5 separate regions of the Homo sapiens genome follow, and all the other regions are linked to region 1. Evidence: fine-mapped expression QTL. A gene starts in region 1. Each other region holds a variant in brackets. All regions are shown on one strand. Distances are from middle to middle. Region 1 holds the start of PIK3R5 (phosphoinositide-3-kinase regulatory subunit 5). Region 2 overlaps PIK3R5 (phosphoinositide-3-kinase regulatory subunit 5). Region 3 holds the start of LOC124903922 (a long non-coding RNA gene). Region 4 overlaps PIK3R5 (phosphoinositide-3-kinase regulatory subunit 5). Region 5 has its middle 6.8 kb from the start of PIK3R6.

Evidence for each region.
Region 2: its variant is fine-mapped to the expression of PIK3R5 in whole blood (TOPMed, PIP above 0.99).
Region 3: its variant is fine-mapped to the expression of PIK3R5 in whole blood (TOPMed, PIP above 0.99).
Region 4: its variant is fine-mapped to the expression of PIK3R5 in whole blood (TOPMed, PIP above 0.99).
Region 5: its variant is fine-mapped to the expression of PIK3R5 in whole blood (TOPMed, PIP above 0.99).

Annotation. Positions count from the first base shown.
Region 1 is chr17:8,963,794-8,968,491 of GRCh38, reverse strand. It overlaps PIK3R5 (phosphoinositide-3-kinase regulatory subunit 5), which reads left to right and starts at 2,785. Exons shown (of 19, transcript NM_001142633.3): 1 at 2,785-2,896. PIK3R5-DT (PIK3R5 divergent transcript) reads right to left here and starts at 2,645. Exons shown (of 3, transcript NR_184080.1): 1 at 2,489-2,645; 2 at 651-1,725. RefSeq lists silencers at 2,372-2,471, 2,542-2,861.
Region 2 is chr17:8,879,745-8,884,442 of GRCh38, reverse strand. PIK3R5 (phosphoinositide-3-kinase regulatory subunit 5) reads left to right here. Exons shown (of 19, transcript NM_001142633.3): 16 at 2,562-2,655; 17 at 2,731-2,813; 18 at 3,426-3,538; 19 at 3,657-4,698. The coding sequence ends at 3,804. The region is part of intron 1 of LOC124903919 (a long non-coding RNA gene); the gene reads right to left. Among named protein-coding and RNA genes, the nearest start is that of PIK3R6, 14 kb to the right of the region's middle. The variant G/A (reference allele first, on the strand shown) is at 2,668.
Region 3 is chr17:8,886,224-8,890,921 of GRCh38, reverse strand. It overlaps PIK3R5 (phosphoinositide-3-kinase regulatory subunit 5), which reads left to right. Exons shown (of 19, transcript NM_001142633.3): 7 at 10-184; 8 at 796-949; 9 at 1,700-1,783; 10 at 2,031-2,751; 11 at 3,239-3,401; 12 at 3,701-3,826; 13 at 4,317-4,445; 14 at 4,600-4,693. It overlaps LOC124903922 (a long non-coding RNA gene), which reads right to left and starts at 3,300. Exons shown (of 2, transcript XR_007065613.1): 1 at 3,222-3,300. LOC124903919 (a long non-coding RNA gene) reads right to left here. Exons shown (of 3, transcript XR_007065610.1): 3 at 4,628-4,698. RefSeq lists enhancers at 1,374-2,182, 2,183-2,991. The variant T/C (reference allele first, on the strand shown) is at 2,699.
Region 4 is chr17:8,935,452-8,940,149 of GRCh38, reverse strand. All of the region lies in intron 1 of PIK3R5 (phosphoinositide-3-kinase regulatory subunit 5), which reads left to right. Among named protein-coding and RNA genes, the nearest start is that of PIK3R5, 28 kb to the left of the region's middle. RefSeq lists a silencer at 507-616. The variant G/A (reference allele first, on the strand shown) is at 2,050.
Region 5 is chr17:8,872,107-8,876,804 of GRCh38, reverse strand. No RefSeq gene overlaps it. Among named protein-coding and RNA genes, the nearest start is that of PIK3R6, 6.8 kb to the right of the region's middle. The variant C/TC (reference allele first, on the strand shown) is at 2,354.

The DNA of each region.
Region 1 (4,698 bases):
AGTTACTAGAAATCTTACTATCCACTGGTGGATAGTAATGATGTCAACTGAGATAGGGAAGGCAGGAGAAGGAGTTTGGGAGAAGATGAGGAATTTATTTTAGGTCATGGAGTAATTAAAAGGCTTTTGGATTGATTATCTAGGTATGGGTGTACAGAAAACACTTGGAATTACAGATCTGGAGCTCAAGAGAGAAGTCTGGGCGATAGTTTGGGAGGGATCAGTATGATGGGAATGGATGAGATTGCCCAGGGAGAAGAGAAGCAGCCTTATCTGAAATCTCAAGCATTGTAATGTTTAAGAGATGATGAAGAAATGAAGCCAGAAGAAGAAAACAGAAATCATGGTGAGAGGTGGAGGAGAAGCCAAGGAGGGGATTTTCAAGAAGGAGTGGTGCCAAATGCTGTAGTGAGGTAAGAAAATGAAACCATTGGAGTTGACATTTGGGGTTTCCCTGGTGGTCTCTGTTCAGAGAATTGAGGAATAAATGTAAGATGAGGAAGTGGAGGCAGGGGTAGACTCCTCTTTGAAAACATTAGGCAGTGAAAGGAAGGAGAGTGATTTCAAAGAGCCATAGATTTTAAAACAAAGCAACAAAGGAGTTGTAGAAAGAGGTACATAATCAGATGCTTAATGAGTGACAGAGGTACCTTTCAGAGTTTTTCCAGCAGCTTTGGGGAGGTGGGAAATGGAGAATGGATAGGTGTCAGGTGCTGATCAGATCTGTGACAGGGAGACGCAGACAGAACTCAGTGTTGACGGCGTGGCATAACATGCAGGCTCCACATCTGGGCCACAGCTGTAGGTGGAGAGGAGAATGCCTACTTCTGAGGGGATGTACGATGGGACCAAGTTGGCTTCTTGGGATGCTCAGAGCCCTAGGAGTGAGCACCAATGAGCCACTCTTTTGCAGTTTTCCTCCATTTTCAGAAGGCAGGCATCCCATAATTTCTCTGGCAGATTATTTGCCTTTCCAAGTGCTCTCCTAATCCAACATTTCCATCTGGCACACAGTGTCATTCTTGCTCCTGAATTCCTGATTCCAGAGCATTTCTGCCATTTTCTTCCTTTGCACAGTGTGTACCTTCCCTCTTCTCCTCTTCTTCCAAATGTCCATATTTTTGTGGTGGAAAAAGTGGGGACAGGGGAGACAGAAGACTGGAATCCTTATCAAGTCCTCTCTCAGCCCTTGGTGGCTCTGGTTCCTTCTCTGTGAAAGGGTGACGTGTGGGGAAGGGGTTGGGGATGAGGTAGGAGAGGGGGTCTGAGTTCCTTCCCACGTCTAACGATGGCTGGAACCAGGCCTCTGTGTTCAACCAAGGGTACTTTCTGTTTCTGTCCATTTGGGGAAGTTGCTTTTTCTTGGTATTTCGGGAGTCAGGAAAAGAAAAGTCATTGGTGTTCATATCTCTCAAAGCCTCAGGTAGGGCTGCGGCTTTTGACCAACAATAACGTATGACCATGACCTTGTGGCCGAGTTTGCACGCCTCTAACAGATATTATGACACAGTTCCATTCAATAGTGGAAGTGGAGATTTCAGCGTTGCCCTTTGTTAACCCACAAATGAAGTGCTACTCTTCCATTGTGAGGGCTGTCGGAGCAGTAGCCAACCTTCTTATCCCCATTTTTTAAACGAGGGAAAGGAGGCATAGGAAGCGCAGTGTCTTGTGGGATTCCCTGGGGAGTCCTTCCAACTCTTGGTAGAGCATCATCTGCAACGTCGTCTGGGGGAGAAAAGGGGGAGGCAAGAAGAGGGCCTTGACCCTGGAGGCAGGAACTCCCGCACACCCTCACTCCCTTCCCCAGGGGCTGGGGAAACCACTCAGGTGACAGTAGCCTTGGTGCCGGCCAGGGAGGGCGGGAAGTCCAGCCAGAGGCTGGAACAGCAGTGCTGAACGCCGGGACTGGCTGGTATTTCTATGAAGGTTCCTGCAGAAGGATGCGGGTCAAGGTGCCCGTCTGCACAGCAGTAGTGCAGGCATTTTAAGGGTTAAGGGCACCCAAAGAAAATAGAAGTAGGGGCCGGGCGCAGTGGCTCACGCCTGTAATCCCAGCACTTTGGGAAGCCGAGGCGGGCGGATCACGAGGTCAAGAGATCGAGACCATCCTGGCCAACATGGTGAAACCCCGTCTCTAGTAAAAATACAAAAAATTGGGCGTGGTGGCGCGCGCCTGTAGTCCCAGCTACCCGGGAGGCTGAGGCAGGAGAATCGCTTGAACCCGGGAGGCGGAGGTTGTGGGGAGTCAAGATCGTGCCACTGCACTCCAGCCTGGCGACAGAGCGAGACTCCATCTCAAAAAAAAAAAAAAAAAAAAGAAAGAAAATAGAAGTAGGAAGAGGAAGTGGGTCGCAGTGAGAGAAGGAAGCAGCTCGTCGGAGCTTCCTCTTTCTCGTCTTTCCCCTAAGCCCCTACCCCAGACCTGCCCCCCTGCTCCGCCCAGCCCTCCTGCGGGGCCAAAGCCGCGCTTCCGACGCGGGGGCCTAACCTCCCCTTACTCCTTGGGGGTCGCTGGTGCTCCGCGCTGGTGCCCCTCGGGCCACTGCCATGGACCGGCCAGGGTCTGCTTCTTCCGAGGGCTGGCGGGTCAGAGCCGGGGCTGCTTCTCAGACGCCTTGCGGCCTCGGGGGCGTGACCCAGAGGATGTGGGGCCGGGCGCGCACCTGGCTGACGCTGCCGGGCCGCCAGGTGGCTGGAGAGGCCGGCTCCGCGGTCAGCCCCGCCCCATTAGGCCCCGCCCCCTGACAGGCTCCGCCCCGCCCGCCGGAGGAGCCCAGGCTGGGCAGATGCTGCGGCTCGCCGCGCGGCTCCAGCTGGGGCGCGGTGGTCCCGACGGTCACCCGAATCGCAGGGAGTCGCCGCTGGAGAGGGGCTCGGCGCCCGGCGGGGACTGCAGGTGTGTGACTGGGCGGCCAGGGCGGATGCGGAGGGCACGCATGGGAGCTCCAGGCAGAGCTGGAGCAAGCTGGGGACCGTCGGGGAGAGTGGGCTCCGCGAGCAGCCGCCGCAGCCCGAGGGCTGGACAGATCCTGCTATCTTCCGGCCCCGTGGACCTGGCCCACCGCGGGGGCAGCGGGTCTGCAAACCTGCGCTCCAGATAACCCCAGAGACTTAAGGGGCGTCGCGGGGACCACTTATCGTTATCCGGGTAACCTCTGCTGGGCGGCTCTGCGCAGCTGTGTCCTCAGCCTCCTGCCTCTGACACAGGACGCCCTGTGTCGTAGGGTCAGGTCCCCTGCCCGCTCCAGCGGGGAACTGTCCGTGAGCGTGGGCATCAGGGCTCTTGTGCCGTCAGAACCTGGGAGTCATGGAAGTGCCCGCGTAAGGCGCCCTCCGTCGAGCCTCACTCAGCCTGCTAGTTAGCCAGCCTTGGGCCCAGACGCGGCTGCTGTCCTAGAGAACTGCACGCTTTCTGCTCTCAGAGGATCTGTGTTTACACACTGGACATCCCCGCGTGACTCGTGTGTGTGTGTGTGTGTGTGTGTGTGTGGGCATGCGCATGTGCGCGTGCTGGCCCATCCCGGCCTGGGGTAAATACACAAAAAGTTCAGGTCAGTAGGAGGAAGGAGATTGTTCAGAAGGAAAAGGAAGGCGAGGTTAAAGCAGCAGGATGTGGTATAAAGCGAGTTAACAAGACTCGGAGTAGAGAGGAGGGGTGGGTTTAGGCAGAATAAGGGCTAAAAGTAGGCCAAGCCTGCCTCCAAGGTCCTCTCTGGACTGACACCCTCGTTTTCCTTCTGTGTCTTCTCATCCACCCCACACTTTCCTTCCTGCCCTCAGGACCACCTGTAAGGCACTGGCTCCCAGAGCTGACTGCAGGTAGGGCTCTCTTGGAGCCAACCCTACAACGTGGCTTTCCAGGGATGGGATCTGGAATCTGTAGTTTTCAAAACTTTGAATGAGCTCCTTAAGTGATGATGCTGAAGCCGTTGCTTGGGAACCATGCATGATGTGGAAAAGAGACCCAAGTTCCAACCGGATCCAGCTGTGTGACCTGCAGCATCACACTGTCCCCCAACCCAGCCTCAGTCTCCTGATTCATAAAATGGGCTGTCATACTGACCCATAGAGCTGTGTGGAATTATTATTATTATTATTATTGAGACAGGGTCTTGCTCTGTCACTCAGGCTGGAGTGCAGTGGCGTGATCATGGCTCACTGCAGCCTTAAATTCCCAGGCTCAAGCAATCCTCCGCCTCCGCCTCCCAAGTAGCTGGGATTACAGGTCAGCACCACGGCGCCCAGCTAATTTTTGTATTTTTTGTAGAGGCAGGGTTTTGCCATGTTGCCCAGGTTGGTCCCAAATTCCTTGAGCTCAAGCGATCCGTCTACCTTGGCCTTCCAAAGTGCTGGGATTATAGACATGAGCCACTGTGCCTGGCCCAGTGTGGAAAATTAAGTGAGGCATGTATGATGAGAACGGCTGCACGTGGGAGATGCTCCGTGGATGTTTGTAGAACGCTGGCTTCCGTGTTTCCTCGTTGTGGCTGTGGTGGTGTGGGTCTTTGCCTGTGGACCCGTGGAAGACAAAGAAGACAGTTTTGGATGGTCAAGCTACTTTCTTGCTTCAGGGCTCCCTCCCCTGCTTTTTGAAGCCTCACAAACCAGGACTGTGAGGGCAGGAAGGCTTGGGGTCTTTGTGTGCTGAGCCTCATTAGGGTTTTAAGAACCTCCCTCCTTTCATCTCTAGCTTACGAG
Region 2 (4,698 bases), 84 kb after region 1:
TGCTGGGCCTGGCTACAGGGCTGGGGCTGAAAGGGGGAAAGGGAAGCCTTCCAGAGGCACCTCAGGGAGAAGCCAGGGTCTCGGGGGGCCAGTGTGCCTGGCAGGCTGCATGCAAGATGGGATTGGCGTGAGAAAGGAGTGAGGAGAGCTGTGGGGAGGTGGAGGGCTGTCCATGACATGCCAGAAGACATGAGTTCTCTGAGCAGGTCGCATCCCAAGGTCCAGGCTGAGGGAAGCTTGGCCTCACAGGTGGGCTTCTTCCTTCGGCCATTCCAAAGATATCCTCTTAGCACCTGCCCATGCTGCCTCTGTGCTGGGCAGGGGAAAAGAGGGGTTGAGCAGGGAAGCCTAGGCCTCACTTTAGCTTGTCTAGAGGAGGGAGACAGACAAGAAACGAGGAAACAAAGAAATAGCCAAGATAATTCCAGAGAGCGGCAAGTGATGACAAAGCAATAAAACAGCAGATGGACGGTGGTGTTGGGGCTGCAGTGCGTTTGGCAGTGAAGGAGGTGGGCAGGAGGCACCGACACTCACTGTAGCCACATGCCAGGTGCTTGCTAGACGTCTTCCACAGCCCAGGCACTGTTCTAGGCCCTGGAGCCTTCCTAAGAGTGAACAAAGGACAGACGTGGTCCCAGGAGACCTGCTGGCCCCCTGGAGTGGGTGGTAGGCATTGGTTCGATGATGCACACGATGTAAAATTACAACTGTGACACATGGATGAGGAGAGGGACACGGGATGTTCCTAAGTGGCAAACCGAACCCAGTCAGGAGAGTTAGTAGTGAAGGCTTCCTTGAGAAGGCACCTGAGTTAATATTGGAGGGAAAACCAGGAATTAATTAGGCTGAGAAGAGAGGTGAGTGCTCTCACAGCAGCAGAAACTGCATGTGCAAAGGCCCTGTGGTGGGAGGCAGTGTGAACACCTTGAAGCACTCTGAAAGAAGACCCCCAGGCTGGAGCAGAGACAGCTGGTGGGAACATGATGCTGAGGTGAGGCTAAAGAAATGGGGGACCAGCATACCAAGAGCCTTAATTGCAATGAAAGGAGTTTTGTGGTTTTTTGTTTGTTTTTTTGAGACATAGTCTCGCCCTGTTTCTCAGGCTAGAGTGCAATGGCTCAATCTTGGCTCACTGCAACATCCGCCTCCCTGGTTCAAGCAATTCTCCTGCCTCAGCCTCCTGAGTAGCTGGGTAGCAGGTGCCCGCCACCACACCCGGCTAATTTTTTGTATCTTTAGTAGAGACGGGGTTTCACCACGTTGGCCAGGCTGGTCTCGAACTCCTGACCTCATGATCCACCTGCCTTGGCTTCCCAAAGTGCTGGGGTTACAGGCATGAGCCACCACGCCCGACCCAATGAAAGGAATTTTATCCTAGTCCTAAGAGCAGTGGATATCCATTAAGGGGGCTTATGTTTGTGGTGGGGCTGGGAATGCCTGTGACATGATTATATCTGAGGCTTGGAAGCTCCCTCTGGCAGCTCTGTGGAGGACAGATAGGAAGGGTCCACAAGTGATGCAGGAAGGCCAGTTAGGAGGCTGTTGCCATGGTCCAGAAGAGAAATTAGGGCAGCAGCCTGCACTAGGGTAGTGGTGGCAGAGCTGGAAAGGAATGGGAGACAGATGTGAGTGATGTAATCAGCAGGGCCCATGGATGGGTTAGGAAAGGAGAGGCCAGACTCCTGGAGTCACTCCTCTGTGACTGGCAGCACCATCTTCTCTGGGGGGACCACAGGAAGAGGCCGGGGTCCAGTTGGGGAAGAGCTTGAGTTTGGGTCGGGACATATTATTGAGGTTGAGAGGCCTTGAGAGGTATAAGGAGACAGTGAGAATAGACGGCTGGCTGAACGGGCCTGACTTTGTGGTGAATATGAAGATGGGTGGACAGCTGCTAATGGAAAAAGGTCACGGAGGAGACTCCTGAAGGGGGGAAGCAGGGAATACAAAGAGCAGAGGACCAAGGGGAGAACCTTGAGCCCTTCATGATGTAATGGCGGGCAGAGGGCAGCGATCCAGCAAAGCAGAGAGGCACCAGCCAGAGAGGCGCTAGAAAAACCAGGAAGGTGCCATCACGAAAGCCCAGGAGAGGTTTTCAAGGAGGGGAGAGCAGTGAACTGTAAGGTCAAGTAAGCTGAGGACCAAGAAGTGTTCTTCGGTTTAACAACATGGAGGTCCCTGATGACAGAGACATTCACACAAAGACTTGAAGAGGGGGTTCAGGTCTGGCTCTGCCAGAAACAGCATGTCTGTGGGCCCAACCCTTCTTCACTCTGGGCCCGGCAGGAGAGCTTCAGGACCACCCCTGCAGGTGCTCTCAGCTCTTGTACCTTTCAACCTGGTCACAGAGGCTGCTGACCCCTAGACCAAGCCAGTGACGTGAGCTCTTCCCTGGAGTCATCCAGGTCTATCCAGGGTGGTACAGGGGCCCTGGTGAATAAGAGAGGGCTTTCTGGGGATATGCTAACTAGAGGCAACCCCCTGTCACTGATGGGCCTTCAAAGAGAAGGCAGCAGGCACCGGGGCCTCTGGACTCAGAGGGTCTGGCTACACTGCATTTCCAGGGGGCCATCAGTGGACGAAGTCGCTGGAGCAACCTGGAGAAGGTCTGTACCTCCGTGAACCTCAACAAGGCCTGCCGGAAGCAGGAGGAGCTGGGTGAGTGGGGTG[G/A]TCAGTGTGGGGTGTGCAGTAGGGAGGTGCTCTGAGCCTGGCCTGAGTGTCCTTGCCCCTCAGATTCCAGCATGGAGGCCCTGACGCTAAACCTGACAGAAGTGGTGAAAAGGCAGAACTCCAAATCCAAGAAGGGCTTTAACCAGGTACGGGCTTCCCTCTCCTTCCAGCCATACCCTCAAGAGACTTACTGGAGCGTGCATGTGCGTATGTGTGTACGTGTGTGTGCACATGTATGTGTGTGCATGTGTGCACATACACACCCGTGTGTACATACTTGTGTGTGTGTGAGAGAGAGAGGAGAGGTGGGGGAGGAGAGGCAGGGTGAGGGGTATGATTTGGGGATGCACACAGGTGTGGAGTGTTGCGGGGTGTCGGGGAGGTAGGGGTGCCCTGTGAGAGGACGCGTGTATGTGGAAAAGTTGTGGGGTGGGTGCCAGGAGAGTCCTAAGACTCTGAGACCAAAGAAAGCAGGCTCTGGATCAGGGGACCTGGGGCTGCTCCGGTGAGGGCAGCAGGCAGGGCAATGTCTCCTCAGGGGGCACTTGCTTCTTCCAGATGCTGGAGAGGAGGCAGGGGCTGATGGAGGCCTCAGGCTCCCTCCTGTGACCTGGCCATTAACCCTGGAGCGCAGTCAGACAAACCCCTGCCCTCCCACACCCCTAGAAGTGGATGGGCAGTTCTGAGAAAAGGAACTGCCAGGGGCTGGCAGTGTTGGATGGCCAGGGATTTGGGGCTGACCTGGGCCTTCCTTCCAGATTAGCACATCGCAGATCAAAGTGGACAAGGTGCAGATCATCGGCTCCAACAGCTGCCCCTTTGCTGTGTGCCTGGACCAGGATGAGAGAAAGATCCTGCAGAGTGTAGTCAGGTAGGAAAGGGGGGTCCTAGGGAGGGGAGCAGTTTCTGCTCCCACCAACCCAGAGGCCTGGAAGGAGCTGGAAGGATGGGGGCCTGCTCTGATCCCTGGCCCCTGCCCTGCTGCACAGATGTGAGGTCTCACCGTGCTACAAGCCAGAGAAGAGCGACCTCTCCTCACCACCCCAGACGCCTCCTGACCTGCCGGCCCAGGCCGCACCTGATCTCTGCTCCCTTCTCTGCCTGCCCATCATGACTTTCAGTGGAGCTCTGCCCTAGTGTGGGCCCAGCGCCAGACTGGACAGAAGCCCTGGGGCAACCTCCTCGGCCACCCCTCCAGGACAGTCCCTCTCTGTGGAGAACTGAATGGCCCTGTGCAGAGCCATAGTCCCACTGTGGGTCCTGCAATGAGCAGGGGCTGGGAGTAGAGGGTTTCTGGGGCCTCAGGGTTCTGGGAAAGCAACAGCTATCAGAGAGAGAAGGGCCAGACCCCATAGCCTCTTAGATTCCTGGCAGTAGAAGGAGAAGGATGGGTAAATTGACCTCTGAAGTCCCTGACCATTAGCATGGTCTAGGATCCTTTCTAGAAGGAAGATCTGAGGCTCTGGTGCTCAGGGGGATGGCTTGGGCCTTTTCTCTCAACCTTGGCTGAGCCTACCCCTTACTTTGCCAAAGACTTGAGGACCCTGTATGTCTGGAGTTCAGTCCCCTCCTCTGTGGGGCTCAGGTGATTGAAATGTGGATGAAACATTTCTCTACTTCAAGACCACCTCTCCCTGCAAACACCACACACACATGGCATGCATGTACGCACATGCGCACACACACACGCACACACCTCAATAATTTCTCTCAAGTTTCCTGAGTCTCCAGAAAAACAGCACTAACGCTGGACCTGTCTACTCTCAGAACCCGGCACAGATTCTCTCTTGATCTCCTTTTGGAATCTGAGATTCTTAGAAGACAGGATAGGGTTAAATTTAGTAGCAGCTCAGTTCTAGCTAAATCACTAGAGGAAGTTAATTAACTTTAAGCCTTCATTTCTCCAGCACTAAAATGGAGTGGAGAGTTGGGGTGGAAATAAGACATCCTTAAAAGGTTAAATTGTCTGCAAAGCACCTAGCCCAGTGCCGAGCTCCCAGTAGGTGTTCAGTAAAGCTTAGTGCCTGACTT
Region 3 (4,698 bases), 78 kb after region 1:
TGTCCCCAGCACCGTGCTGCTGCTGAACCCAGTGGAAGTGCAGGCCGAGTTCCTTGCTGTAGCCAATAAGCTGAGTACGCCCGGACACTCGCCTCACAGTGCCTACACCACCCTGCTCCTGCACGCCTTCCAGGCCACCTTTGGGGCCCACTGTGACGTCCCGGGCCTGCACTGCAGGCTACAGGTATGTACCTGGGGCCTGGGGCTCTGGTGGAGCACCTCTCTGAGGAGGTAGCACCCTCTCCCTGCTTCATCTCAGCCACGGTCTCCAGGGTACACTTAGTCTCCTGCACCCAGGTGACATGGCAGGGTGGTGGCTGGAGGGCTGACCTCATAGAGGGTGTTTCTGGTGTGCTGGATCCTAACCAGCTGGGTGGCAGCCTGGGCAGTAGGACTGGGTGCTGATAACTGGTGCCTCAGAAGATGGCATATGCCATAAGAACGAGAATGAGCTTTGGGCTGAAGACCTGGCATCTAGGCCTGGCTCTGTCACAGGTGTCACAGGTCGGCTGTGTCACCCCACACAGCTCCTTCCCCTCTATGGGGTACAGTGAGGAGCGCTGAAGTCCCTCCTAACTGCAGTGCCGTGGCTCTGGATCTTTCTCTCCTGACCATTTCCTGAGAATGGAAGGGCAGGGAGAGGCCTGGCTGCCTGGCCAGCTGTGGGTAGGAGATGGGTGATGAGGCTGGGAGGGGACAGATCACTGCCTCCCTCAGTAAGAAGCTAGCAACTGGAACAGGTGGACAGCTAGCTCACGGTCCAGGAGCAAAGCCCATCTCCTCCTGGGGTTTCAGGCCAAGACCCTGGCAGAGCTTGAGGACATCTTCACGGAGACCGCAGAGGCACAGGAGCTGGCATCTGGCATCGGGGATGCTGCAGAGGCCCGGCGGTGGCTCAGGACCAAGCTGCAGGCGGTGGGAGAAAAAGCTGGCTTCCCTGGGGTGTTAGGTGAGGCTCTTGGGAGAATGGGGTTCTCCCACATTCCCCATGGCCTATTCTAGGTCCCAAGGTGCACGGTCCAGGCGGGCCTGGTGGCTCTGCTCCACACAGTCACTCAGGGACTCAGCTTCTTCAGCATCTCACTGCTCTGCCATCCCCTAGGGTGTCTCATTCCTGTCTATAGGGGCAGGGTGGGGGTGCTATCATGATGGCAGCTTGTGGGAAGAGGAAAAGAGAGTGCTTACGAGGGCAAAGGCTGGGCTTTTCTGTTGAAGGTGATGCAGAAGCTGGGCACATCACTTCCGCTCATGTTCCTTTGAGCCCGCCTTGGTCACGTGGCCACATCTTGCCCCAAAGGAGCCTGGGAAACATCGTCTCTATGACTCCAGTACCATAGAAGGGAGCACAGACTTTGAGGAACCATTAGCATTCCCTGTTACAATATTCCTCATAAAAACCTTCTGGGCTAGTACTATTATTCTCCCATGGGCACATTGTAAAATGAGGCTCAGAGGTTGTGGTTTGGCCACATTCGCACAGCTCATAAAGGGCATGCCATCTACATGGTGTGCTTGAAAGAAGGGCCTCTGGCTTGGAGCCTGGCACCCTGGCTGTAACTCAGCCTCAGCCTATCCAGCTACATATCCTTGTGCCGATCCTGTCCCATCTCTGGTCTCTTCTCCAAGGCAAGGGGACTGGACTGGCCAATCTCCAAGGCCTCTTCCCAGCCCTCTTCTCCTATCCTCCCTGTTCTTACAGACACTGCAAAACCAGGGAAGCTCCACACCATCCCCATCCCTGTCGCCAGGTGCTACACCTACAGCTGGAGCCAGGACAGCTTTGGTAAGGAGCCGGGGCCCTGGTGACACCCATGCCCCACACTGCCTGAGCTGTGTTTCTGGTCCTGGGTCCATGCAGCTCCCACCCCGTCCCCAAAGCTCTCCCACATGAGCAGGCTCTAAGCAGAGCAAGGGGGCAGTGCTAGGAGTCCTGGGCTGGCCCTGAGTCCTGCTGTCTCCCCTCCAAAGGGAATATAGAAGGGGATCCGGGGCCCAGACGCCCAGACAGTGCTGGCCTTGCTTCCCTGCAGACATCCTGCAGGAAATCCTGCTCAAGGAACAGGAGCTACTCCAGCCAGGGATCCTGGGAGATGATGAAGAGGAGGAAGAGGAGGAGGAGGAGGTGGAGGAGGACTTGGAAACTGACGGGCACTGTGCCGAGAGAGATTCCCTGCTCTCCACCAGCTCTTTGGCGTCCCATGACTCCACCTTGTCCCTTGCATCCTCCCAGGCCTCGGGGCCGGCCCTCTCGCGCCATCTGCTGACTTCCTTTGTCTCAGGCCTCTCTGATGGCATGGACAGCGGCTACGTGGAGGACAGCGAGGAGAGCTCCTCCGAGTGGCCTTGGAGGCGTGGCAGCCAGGAACGCCGAGGCCACCGCAGGCCTGGGCAGAAGTTCATCAGGATCTATAAACTCTTCAAGAGCACCAGCCAGCTGGTACTGCGGAGGGACTCTCGGAGCCTGGAGGGCAGCTCGGACACGGCCCTGCCCCTGAGGCGGGCAGGGAGCCTCTGCAGCCCCCTGGACGAACCAGTATCACCCCCTTCCCGGGCCCAGCGCTCCCGCTCCCTGCCCCAGCCCAAACTCGGTACCCAGCTGCCCAGCTGGCTTCTGGCCCCTGCTTCACGCCCCCAGCGCCGCCGCCCCTTCCTGAGTGGAGATGAGGATCCCAAGGCTTCCACGCTACGTGTTGTGGTC[T/C]TTGGCTCCGATCGGATTTCAGGGAAGGTGGCTCGGGCGTACAGCAACCTTCGGTAAGAGCCGTAATGCGGAGCATCCCTCTGCCCTGGGTAACAGGGTTGTTGTGCTGGTGGAATCTGGGGCCTGAGGCTTAGGGCCCCAGAGGAACCAAAAGTTCCCTTATTTATTTTTATTTTATTATTATTATTATTATTATTATTATTATTATTATTATTATTATTTTGAGACAGAGTCTTGCTCTGTTGCCCGGGCTGGAGTGCAGTGGCATGATCTCGGCTCACTGCAACCTCTGGCTCTCCAGTTCAAGCGATTCTTGTGCCTCAGCCTCCCGAGTAGCTGGGATTACAGGTGCACACCACCACACCTGACTAATTTTTTTTTTTTTTTTGTCTTAGTAGAGATGGGGTTTCCCTCTGTTGACCAGGCTGGTCTTGAACTCCTGGCCTCGGGTGATCCACCCACCTCAGCCTCCCAAAGTGCTGGGATTACAGGCGTGAGCCACCATGCCCATTCCCCTTCTCACCATCTTCTTCTTGCCAGGCGGCTGGAGAACAATCGCCCACTCCTCACACGGTTCTTCAAACTTCAGTTCTTCTACGTGCCTGTGAAGCGAAGTCATGGGACCAGCCCTGGTGCCTGTCCACCCCCTCGGAGCCAGACGCCCTCACCCCCGACAGACTCCCCTAGGCACGCCAGCCCTGGAGTATGTCCCCAGCCTGGGCCAATGGTCGGGGAAAGTAGAGTTCTGGCTACCTGAAGGAAGCCGATTGGAAGTCATGGAAAGCAAGCACCTGTGTTGACAGGGCACCTCCCCCTGCCTGGCCCTCACTCCCTGCACTTGGACATGACATTTTGCCATATGACAAAGACTGAAAGTTGTCATACTTCCCCAAGGGCAGGGAGAAGCTCAGCATGGGGCTGCAGGTGCCATCCAAGGCCCTGGAGCTAGGATGGGCAGGCCTCCTGGGGAGCTGGGATGATGACTCTTGTTCTTTGCCCTAGGAGCTGGGCACCACCCCATGGGAGGAGAGCACCAATGACATCTCCCACTACCTCGGCATGCTGGACCCCTGGTATGAGCGCAATGTACTGGGCCTCATGCACCTGCCCCCTGAAGTCCTGTGCCAGGTAAGTGGCCCCGTGGTTGCGGAACAGGGTCCACTGGCTGCAGTCACCCAGCCTCACTTAGAAGGCCCTGGATTTAGGGAATCAGGCTTGAGGCCCCCATGGAGGACCTGGGCCCTCTTGGAAAAGATCAGGGAGTGTGGGTGAGAAGCAGGACTGAGCCTGAACTCAGGACACTGAGTGTGAGAGCTGGGGTCACTGCAGTGATGGAGGAGGGCCCTCAGAAGGGTCCGGGGGACCTCAGATTTCAGCCCCCTTCCTCAACTCCCGCCTTTGTCTGGCTAAGCCAGAAGCCTCCCTGGAGGCCAGTGGGTCAGGTGAGGGGCATGGAGGCTGGGCACCGGCCCTCCCCTGCTTCCTGCTTCCACCTCACCAGCTCCCCCTGACTGGCTGCCTCTATGTCTCTCTTCTCTCTTCCTCCCTAATTCTTGCTCCTTCTTACCATCTATCCACCCACCCATCTGGCTTGGCTGCCCCTTCCCTCTGGCCACAGCAGTCCCTGAAGGCTGAAGCCCAGGCCCTGGAGGGCTCCCCAACCCAGCTGCCCATCCTGGCTGACATGCTACTCTACTACTGCCGCTTTGCCGCCAGACCGGTGCTGCTGCAAGTCTATCAGACCGAGGTAAGGCCTCCCTGCCCCGAACCGCCTCTTCCCCACCTGCCGGGCCTGCAAGGCCCCACCCCTGCCCCGGGAGAGCCAGCAGGTCTATGCTGGAGGAGCCAAATGGGCCCCTCCAGGAGGTTCACACTGATGTACATGCTCCTGCCCTCTCCAGCTGACCTTCATCACTGGGGAGAAGACGACAGAGATCTTCATCCACTCCTTGGAGCTGGGTCACTCCGCTGCCACACGTGCCATCAAGGCGTCAGGTGGG
Region 4 (4,698 bases), 28 kb after region 1:
TCTGACACCACACCTTCAGCCAGGCCCCCATCTCCCAGGGGAAGCAGGCTTAGGGGCTGCCCTTGTGAAGTCATACAAGAAGCCTGATATGAGAGATTAGAAACTCCCCGCAGCTCTCTGGGGGTTGTTTTTAAAAGGAATTAAACTGTCCTGAGAGAGATGTGTAAGACTAAGCTGAGATGGGGACCACCATGAGAACTGAAACACTCTATTTGGAGCTTTCCAGAAATACGCAGATTTGAGGAATTCTGGAGTAGGGAAGGACATTGGGGCAGGAAGGTGACCCCTTCTCACACCAGGACTCCAGAATACATGAATATCAAAAGGCAATGACAGTCCCTGGGAGAGGGAGGGGCCACGTTCCCATTCCTCTTGGCTGCACAGCTTCTGGGGAGCAGAGATTCTCAGCCAGGCATCCGTGAACTTGGATGGAGAACACGTGGCATCGTTATTTTCACTCACCTGTAACTGAAGTTCGCATTTGAACGTAGGCAAAAACCACAGTCATATCAGTAGCACCTGTGACTTTGTCACCAACAGAAATCCAGATGTTTTCGTGTCACTTTGAGGTTGCAGATACCTCAAATGTCATTCATGCTCTTTACTACGTTTAGGTGATCACAGTGATTAGACTCACTGCTGGGCTTTTATTATTTCATGTGTTAATGAGAAGAACGTATACTCCCATTTCATAAATCTGATGATTTAAAAATAGTTTGACCATTGTATTTCAGTGTAACTCATTTCCTTTGCAATTCTGTGTATTTTATTTCATGCATTTAAAGCATTATTCTGAAGAGGGGTCTGTAGATGTCAGACTGCTGAATGGTCCCATGGTGCAAAAAAGTTTAGGAATTCCTACTGCTGGAGCAATTGGGTAGAGAATTCGAGGTGTTACCTGACAGCTGGGGAGGGCTTTGGTGTTCGGCAGGCCTGAGTTAGCATCATTGCTCTCACTTGCTGCAGATCCTGAGAAAGTGACTTTATCTCTCAGAGCCATCGTTTCCTTATGTGTAAAACAGAGATGAAGAATGACCACCTGGAAGGATTGTCCCATGTGAAAGTGCCTGCCTCTTCCAGCAGCTGACAGGTAGTAGGAACTCACTGTGGGTAGTAGCTGATGGCGGTGGCACCAGCTTATGTAAGCCCACAAGACTCAAGCAGGATTCTCTTTTTACAGAGGAAACTCCAGGCTACGTTCATTTCTTACTGTCCCTCATGTAGAAAGGTAAACTTGGGTCATACCTGGATACTGTCTCTCATCTTTTTCTTTTGCTCTGAGCAAGTAGCTCCCATGTATCCAATATGAATCTTGGTCCATAAATTCAAGCATTTGAGAAATAAAATTACAAATATATACTTGAAATGCTTCAAGTGTATCTGAGAAATTCTTGGTATGTCCACACAGTGAAATATTACTCAGTCATAAAAAGGAGTAAGTACTGTTACATACTACGACATGGATGAACCTAGAAAACATGCACTAAGTGAAACAAACCAGATGCAAAAGACCACATATCATAAGACTTCATTTATATGAATTGTCCAGAATAAGCAAACCCATAAAGACAAAAAGTAGATGACTGGTTGCCAGAGGATAAGGGGAGGGAGAATGGAGAGTGATTGCTAATAGGTATAGGGTTTCTTTTTGGAGCGATGAAAATATTCTGGGATCAGATAGTTGTGATGGTTACATACTTAGTGAGTATAGTAAAAGCCGCTGAAGGGTATTCTTTAAAATGTTGAGTTTACGTTACATGAATTACAGCTCAAGAAAAAAAGTAAAAATCACTGCCAAACCTATGGACATTGAAAAGATAATAAAGGAATATTATGAACAACTCTATGCCCACCAATTTGCTAACTTAGATGAAATGGAATAATTTCTTATTTCTATTAAAACTCATACAAATAGAAGTAGATTATCTGAATAGGCCTATATCTATTAAATAAATTGAATCAATAATCTTCCAAAACAAAAAAGTTTCAGGCCCAGATGGTTTCACTGGTGAATTCTACCAAACATTTAAAGAAAAAATGGCCGGGTGC[G/A]GTGGCTCACATGTGGAAGCCCAGCACTTTAGGAGACTGAGGCAGGCAGATCACCTGAGGTCAGGCGTTCAAGACCAGCCTGGCCAACATGGTGAAACCCCGTCTTTACTAAAAATACAAAAAATTAGCTGGGTGTGGTGGCAGGTGCCTGTAATCCCAGCTACTCAGGAGGCTGAGGCAGGAGAATCACTTGAACCCAAGAGGTGGAGGTTGCAATGAGCCGAGATTGTGCCATTGCACTCCAGCCTGGGCAACAAGAGTGAAACACACACACACACAAAAGAAAAAATGATGGCAACTCTCTACAGTCCATTCCAGAAAATAGAAGAAGAGGGAGTGCTTCCTAACTCATTCTATGAGGCCAGCATTACCTAATACCAAAACCGGACAAAAATATTACAAAAAACGAAAACTACAGATCAATATCTTTCATTAATATAGGTGTAAAAATCCTCAATAAAACATTAGCAAATTGAATCCAACGATACACGAAAAGAATTATAGATCACAGCTAAGAGGGATTTATTCTGGATATACAAGGCTGATTCAATATTTGAAAGTCAACTAACGTAGTTAATTACATCAACAGGCTGAAGAAGAAAAATCATAAAACTAGATACAGAAGAAACATTTGATAAAGTCCAATACCCATTTATGATAAAAATTCTCATCACACTAGAAATAGAGAGGAACTTCTTCAGCTTGATAAATACTTATACAGAAAACGTACAGCTAACATTATGGTGAGAAACTAGATGTTTTCCCCCTAAGACTGGGACCAAGGCAAAGATGTCTTCACTTACCACTCATATTTAACATCGTACTGGAAGTCCTACGTAAAGCAAAAATATAAGAAAAGGAGATGAAAGGTATACAGATTGGGAAGGAAGTTTCTGTTCACCAAATAACATGATTGTCTATGTATAAAATCCCAAAGAATCAACAATGACAAAAAACAACATTCCTGGAACTAAGCAATTATAGTAAGGTTTCAGAGTGCAAGATAAATACACAAAAGTCAAGTGCTTGCCTATATACCAGCAATGAACAATTGGAATTTGAATTAAAAATACAATACCATTTACACTAGCACCAAAAAATGAAATAATCAGATATGAATCTAACAAAATATATACAAGATTTATATGAGAAAACAATAAAATGGATAAAAAAATCTACAGAAATCTAAATAAATGGAGAGGTATTCCATGTTCATGTATAGAAAGACTCACTATTGTTAAGCTGTCAGTTCTTTTAGTTTTATCTCTAGACTCGATGCAATCTCTATCAAGACTCCAATAAATTACTTTGTGAATATTGACAAACTCATTCTAACACTTATATGAAAAGAAAAAGACCTAGAATAAACAACACAACATTGAAGAAGAACAAAGTCAGAAGACTGACATTACTAACTTACTAAGACCTGCTATAGAGACTTGTAAGACTTACTATAAAGGTGCATCCATACAATGGAATATTATTCAGTGGGAAAAAGAAAAGAGCTATCAAGCCATGAAAAAACATGAAAGAATCTTAAGTGCATGCATATTGCTAAATGAAAGAAGCCAATCTGAAAAAAACTACATACTGTATAATCCCAACTATGTGATGTCCTGGAAAAGGCCAATCTATGGAAGCAGTAAAAAAGAAGAATGGCTACCAGATGCTGGAGGGAGTAGGATGAATAGATGGAGTATAGGGGATTTTCTGGGCAGTGAAAATATTCTGTGATACTGTAATGTGTATTGATATTATATATTTGGAGAAACTCATAGAATTGTACAACACAAAGAGTGCACCCTAACGCACACTGTGGACTTCAGTGACTACTCTTGTATCAATATTGGTTTATTAATTTTAACGAATGAACCGCACTAATGGAAGATATTAATAATAGAGGAAACTGTGGGTGGGAGGAGGAAGGAGAGGGAGTATATAGGAACTCTCTGTACTTTAATATTTCTATAAACCTAAAACTACTTTAAGAATTAAAGTCTATAAAAGAAATAGAAATAAACATTGTCTCCTTTTTTTTTTTTTTTTTGAGATGGAGTCTCGGTCTGTCACCCAGGCTGGAGTGCAGTGGCGCAAGCTCAGCTCACTGCAATCTCCGCCTCCCGGGTTCACGCCATTCTCCTGCCTCAGCCTCCCGAGTAGCTGGGACTACAGGTGCCCGCCACCACGCCCGGCTAATTTTTTGTATTTTTAGTAGAGATCGGGTTTCACTGCGTTAGCCAGTATAGTCTCGATCTCCTGACCTCGTGATCCGCCCGCCTCAGCCTCCCAAAGTGCTGGGATTACAAGCGTGAGCCACCATGCGTGGCCTTGTCTTCTTATGTTGACTGAAATCCGATGCCAAGCCCCATCCTGCCAGGAGCTGTCCGGGAGCTCAGAGCTGTTCACTTTCCTGCCACAAACCTTCCTCAGGATGGTTGCCTTCTTATTTAGCATGGGGATAGGGTGAGGGGAGAGCACAATGTACAGAAAGAAATAAATTAATAGAAATATAAATTATCCTGTATTTGTACTCTGAGGTCTTAGGAACAGCTCCGGGGAAGCTTGGGTTCTGACCTGAATCTCTTCCTTTGGCCTCTGGCAGAGGAAACAAGGAAGGAAGCAGGTCTCCCAGGCAACCTGCCCACACTG
Region 5 (4,698 bases), 92 kb after region 1:
TTATATATAAATATAAATACATGTCACTATATAAATATAAACTGTATATAAATATAAATATAAAACAAAAATGGACAGAACTAGAAGTCTCCACAACCACAGTGGTCAACATATCTCTCCCAATAGCTGATAGAACACATAGACAAAAAATTTTAATAGAGATATACAAGATCTGGACAACACAATTAACAAATTTGATGTTACTGAAATTGATAGAACATTGTGGCCCATTCTCAGCTCACTGCAAACTCCGCCTCCCGGGTTCAAAGGATTCTCCTGCCTCAGCCTCCCAAGTAGCTGGGACTACAGGCGCATGCCACCACACCCAGCTAATTTTTTTTATTTTTTTAGTAGAGACAGGGTTTCACCATGTTGTCCAGGCTGGTCTCGAACTCCTGACCTCAGGTGATCCACCCACCTCGGCCTCCCAAAGTGCTGGGATTACATGCATGAGCCACCACGCCCAGACAGAAGATTCTTTAAACCATACTTCACAAAAATCACTGGCTGACCTAAGAATGGATCCCCTATTGGTCAGACACATACCCTGGATACTATCACCATGAGCTGTAGGCGAATCCATGGGCCAAGTGGTTATAGGCTAAAGGGGCTCTGAGCCAGAATGTCTCATCCAGTCCATGAGCTTTTGTAATCCGAGTCATTGAACACTGAGGAAAGGGGCCGAGGTAGGGGACTGAAACTAGAATCCCCATTGGGTCCTGCTGTTGGCAGATGAAGAGAAAGGAGGAGGCTGTCCTTTTCAGCACCCCATCCTCCTCCTCAAGGTGGCCCCTCCTCCGCATGGTACCTCACCAAGAGCTCAGGAGCTGGCCATAAACTTGCAGACTCTCACCTCCCACTACTCACAGCAGAATTACTTCTGCCCTAGGCATGTTGACCTCCTGGTCTTGCCATCCCTGGAATGGGTATATTTCTCCAACTTTGGGAGGAGATAGGTGTCTCCTTTTGCCACTTCCTGCTTCCTAGAAGGCTGGGCAGGCCTCAGTTAGGGGACCAAAATCAAGCTGTGCACTGCGGGTCTCAGGGTTTGGGACCGTAGAAGGGAGCGCTCTCTTGGCCCCCAGTTCCATCATTCCTTCCTGCACCTGGCAGAACCCCTGTGGCCTTACATTTCCTCTGCTCCCTTTGTCGGATACGGCACTCTCTCAGGCTAAACCTCGGATCACAGGGAGGCCAGGGAGGAGCAGGAACGTTCACCCTTGGAGTGACCCTGGCCGCCTCCCGATGTCTCCAAGCCTCGCTTCCTTGCCTGTGAAAATGACACAGTGTCTACTTTCCGGGGAGTGTGTAGGGCTCATCAGGGGACGCAATGTGAAAGGGGATGGTGCTGCTGAGACTGTAGTCCAGGTAGCCTACCGGGCCTCAGGTGTAATGCTCAACCTTGTTTTTACTAACCCTGTTTTTAGACTCTCCCTCTTTCCTTTAATCACCTAGCCTTGGTTCCACCTGAATTGACTCTCCCTTAGGTAAGAGAGCCAGACAGACTCCATCTTGGCTCTTTCACTGGCAGCCCCTTCTTCGAGGACTTAACTTGTGCAAGCTGACTCCCAGCACATCCAAAAATGCAATTAACTGATAAGATACTGTGGCGAGTGATATCCGCAGTTCCCAGGAATTCGTCCGATTGATAACGCCCAAAGCCCCGCGTCTATCACCTTGTAATAGTCTTAAAGCCCCTGCACCTGGAACTGTTTACTTTCCTGTAACCATTTATCCTTTTAACTTTTTGCCTACTTTATTTCTGTAAAATTGTTTTAACTAGATCCCCCTCCCCTTTCTAAACCAAAGTATAAAAGAAAATCTAGCCCCTTCTTCGGGGCCAAGAGAATTTTGAGCGTTAGCCGTCTCTTGACCACCGGCTAAATAAACGGACTCTATTTTTTTTAAATAAATGAAGCCTATTTTATTACTTCAAGTGTTAATGATAAAAAAAATTTCAGCACAGCTGTTGCATTTTAAAAAGTGAAACTACATACTATGTTTCTAGCTCAGTAAACAGATGAACCTGATGTCTTTAAATGACATAACAATTGAGCATTGTACAGTACATCTTATGAAGACCCGTAAATTAAAGAACTACTGGTAATAATCACTAACTATAAACAGACTCTTAATTCATCTCAAAGTGTGGCGTTTTCTCTAACTCGCTCAGGTACAACACAGGGCTCCCTGTGAGCAGAAGCCTTACCGAGAGGGGGCTCCTCCAGACACAATGGCTTACACCTCTTTGTTCTCCTCAGGTAGCTGGGAGCTTCTTCTAGGGGCCGGAAGGTAGTGGTCTATCACCATCTTCAGACCTCTCCTTGAAGTCCCTGGCATCCCAGTCATGCCT[C/TC]CCCCCGGGGAAAGGGCTCTCCCACAGCCTCCAGGGCAAGAAGCCCGCAGCCCCCTGTCTGCCCAAAGCAGAAGCAGCACAGTTTTCAGCCCCTGCGGCTCCAGGCACACCCGAGATGCTGTGTGGACCCAGCCAGCCTGGTGCCTGCCCTGGGCCTTCAGACTGCCCCTCCCGCATTGCCACACTGCCACCCACTCCAGCACCGGTAATGTTCACAGCTTCCCTGGGGAAAGGGCTCCCCCATTTTCTTGAGGAAGAATCCACTTCCTCCTTTCCCCAAGTCTCTGAATCCTTCTCTTTCTTCCCCCAACCATACCAGTAAAATCAGGGTAAAGGAAATGCCTCCTGGGAGAGGGTGCCATCCCCCATCCCTCTGGGGGCAAAGTGAGGCAGGTGGCAGACTCTGTCCCCAGGCGTGCCAGCTTGTTTCTCTCTGTTCTGTGCTCAGGCACACCTATGTCCCGGCTCGGACCACAGCCCCGGAGACTCTGAGTGTGGGCTCCCTGGAGACATGGCTGTGGTCACAGCAGGTACGTGTGTCTGCCACTCTTTGCACGGGGGGAGTGGGAAGAAATGGCGCTTGTTCGAAGGATCTCAGATATTTCCAGCTCAAAGGTGCAGCGTCTCAGTCATTGCAACCTGCACAGAGAATCACCTGTGAATGTCTGCGTCGAGTGAACTGACCTCTCAGCAAACACTTTCAGCACTTACTGAGCACGTGTCAGGCGCTGCTCTGTGTGCTTTACATGCTTACGTTAACTCATTTGTGCCACAGCCCCATGAGGTAGGTACAATTATGCTCCCTTTTACAGGCAGGGAAACTGAGGCAGAGACAAGTAACTTGTCCAAGCTCACAGAGACAGTAAAAAGGGGAATCCAGGATTTAAGCACAGACAGGTGGGGTCCAGAGTCCCTGCGCTTAACCACTAATCTCTGCTGCTCTCTGGAACCTCTCGTGTGGGTGGTGGGTAAGCTGAGGCCATGAAAAGGATCACACAGATGTCTGAGAAGAATGGCTTCGTTTCTAATGGAACGCTGGAGACGCTCTGATAGCTTCAAAATAGAAGCTGTGTTCACACACCCTCAGGAATGGTGGGAGTGGCAGGGGTGGAAAAGTTGGAGGGGGCATAGAGGAGGAGAGGAAGCTGGGGCCAGACTGGGTTGGCGGGACTCCAGGCTGGTCTGCGCGGACCACTGCTAAGGGGAGGGCAGTCAGGAAGGAAGCCCTCGGTGAATGGTGAATGTCGCTCCTGGCTCCAGAGCAGACTGAAGGGGGTCCCCCGAGACCTCTGGGGAAGAGGAGGGAGGGAGCAGAGCGGCCCCCACCCCCACACACCCAAGGAAGGGGCCCTTGCAACCAGGGACCAGAGGCCTTCTCTGAGCAAAACTGTAGCCGAAAGTCTCTGAGGCCAGAACAGAATCGTTTTGGGGCTGAGAAAGCTGAGGAGGGCTTTGCAAACCCAATCTGCAGCCCCTCAGGTTACAGAGGAGGAAACTGAGGCCCAGAGACTGGGAGAGGCCTGCACAGGGTCACACAGAGTGAGAGGCACGTGCCAGGATGAGGGCCCAGCCAGGTAGCCTGGCTTACTTTTGGGGGTGTAGCTCAGTGTGTGCATGCGTGCGTGTGTGTGTGTGTGTGTGTGTGTGCGTGTGCACATGAGTGGGTGTGTGGTCCTGCACATGTTTGGAGGGCAGGCAATTTGCATAAATAATGCAAGTTGGGGTCTTTGCGTTTTCTCACTGATTTCCTGGTTGACCCCAGCCATCTTGATTTGTTCCACTTCCTGGTGTGAGTTCATTTGGAAAAAGAAAATGGAGAGGGTGATATGCATATCATGCAGATGAAGAGACTCCTAACACCTCCCCAGCTCAGCTCCACCAGCAAAAGCCTGTCCAAGGAGGAACCTGCGGTATTAGGGGCAGAGGGAGAGGAAGCAGGGGTCCACTTGGTCTCCCTCTCAAGGCAGCCATGAGAACAGGGGAAATGAGAAGAGACCAGGCCCCGCCCTCCACAGCAACCCCAAAGTGTCTGCCCTCTCACCTCATCACAGAGCTGCCAGTACCAAGGAGTTTGGGAGAGGGGACAGTTGCACCCGCAAAAGAGAAGGAGGAGGTCACAAGGTTTTCTTCACCTGAAGGGCAGCTTTCGGAAGAGGGAGTGACTGATCTTCTCTGTGTCCTTCCCATTTCGAACCCTGTAAATGTGTAACTAGTCCAAACAAACATGTACATTTAAATGTAAGAAAAGAATGTGGTTGATCCTTATGTACCAATATATCGTGATCTTCAAGTAAACAAAGCAAGTTAAAGAGCGATTTGTATGGTGCTCACATGTATAAACTACC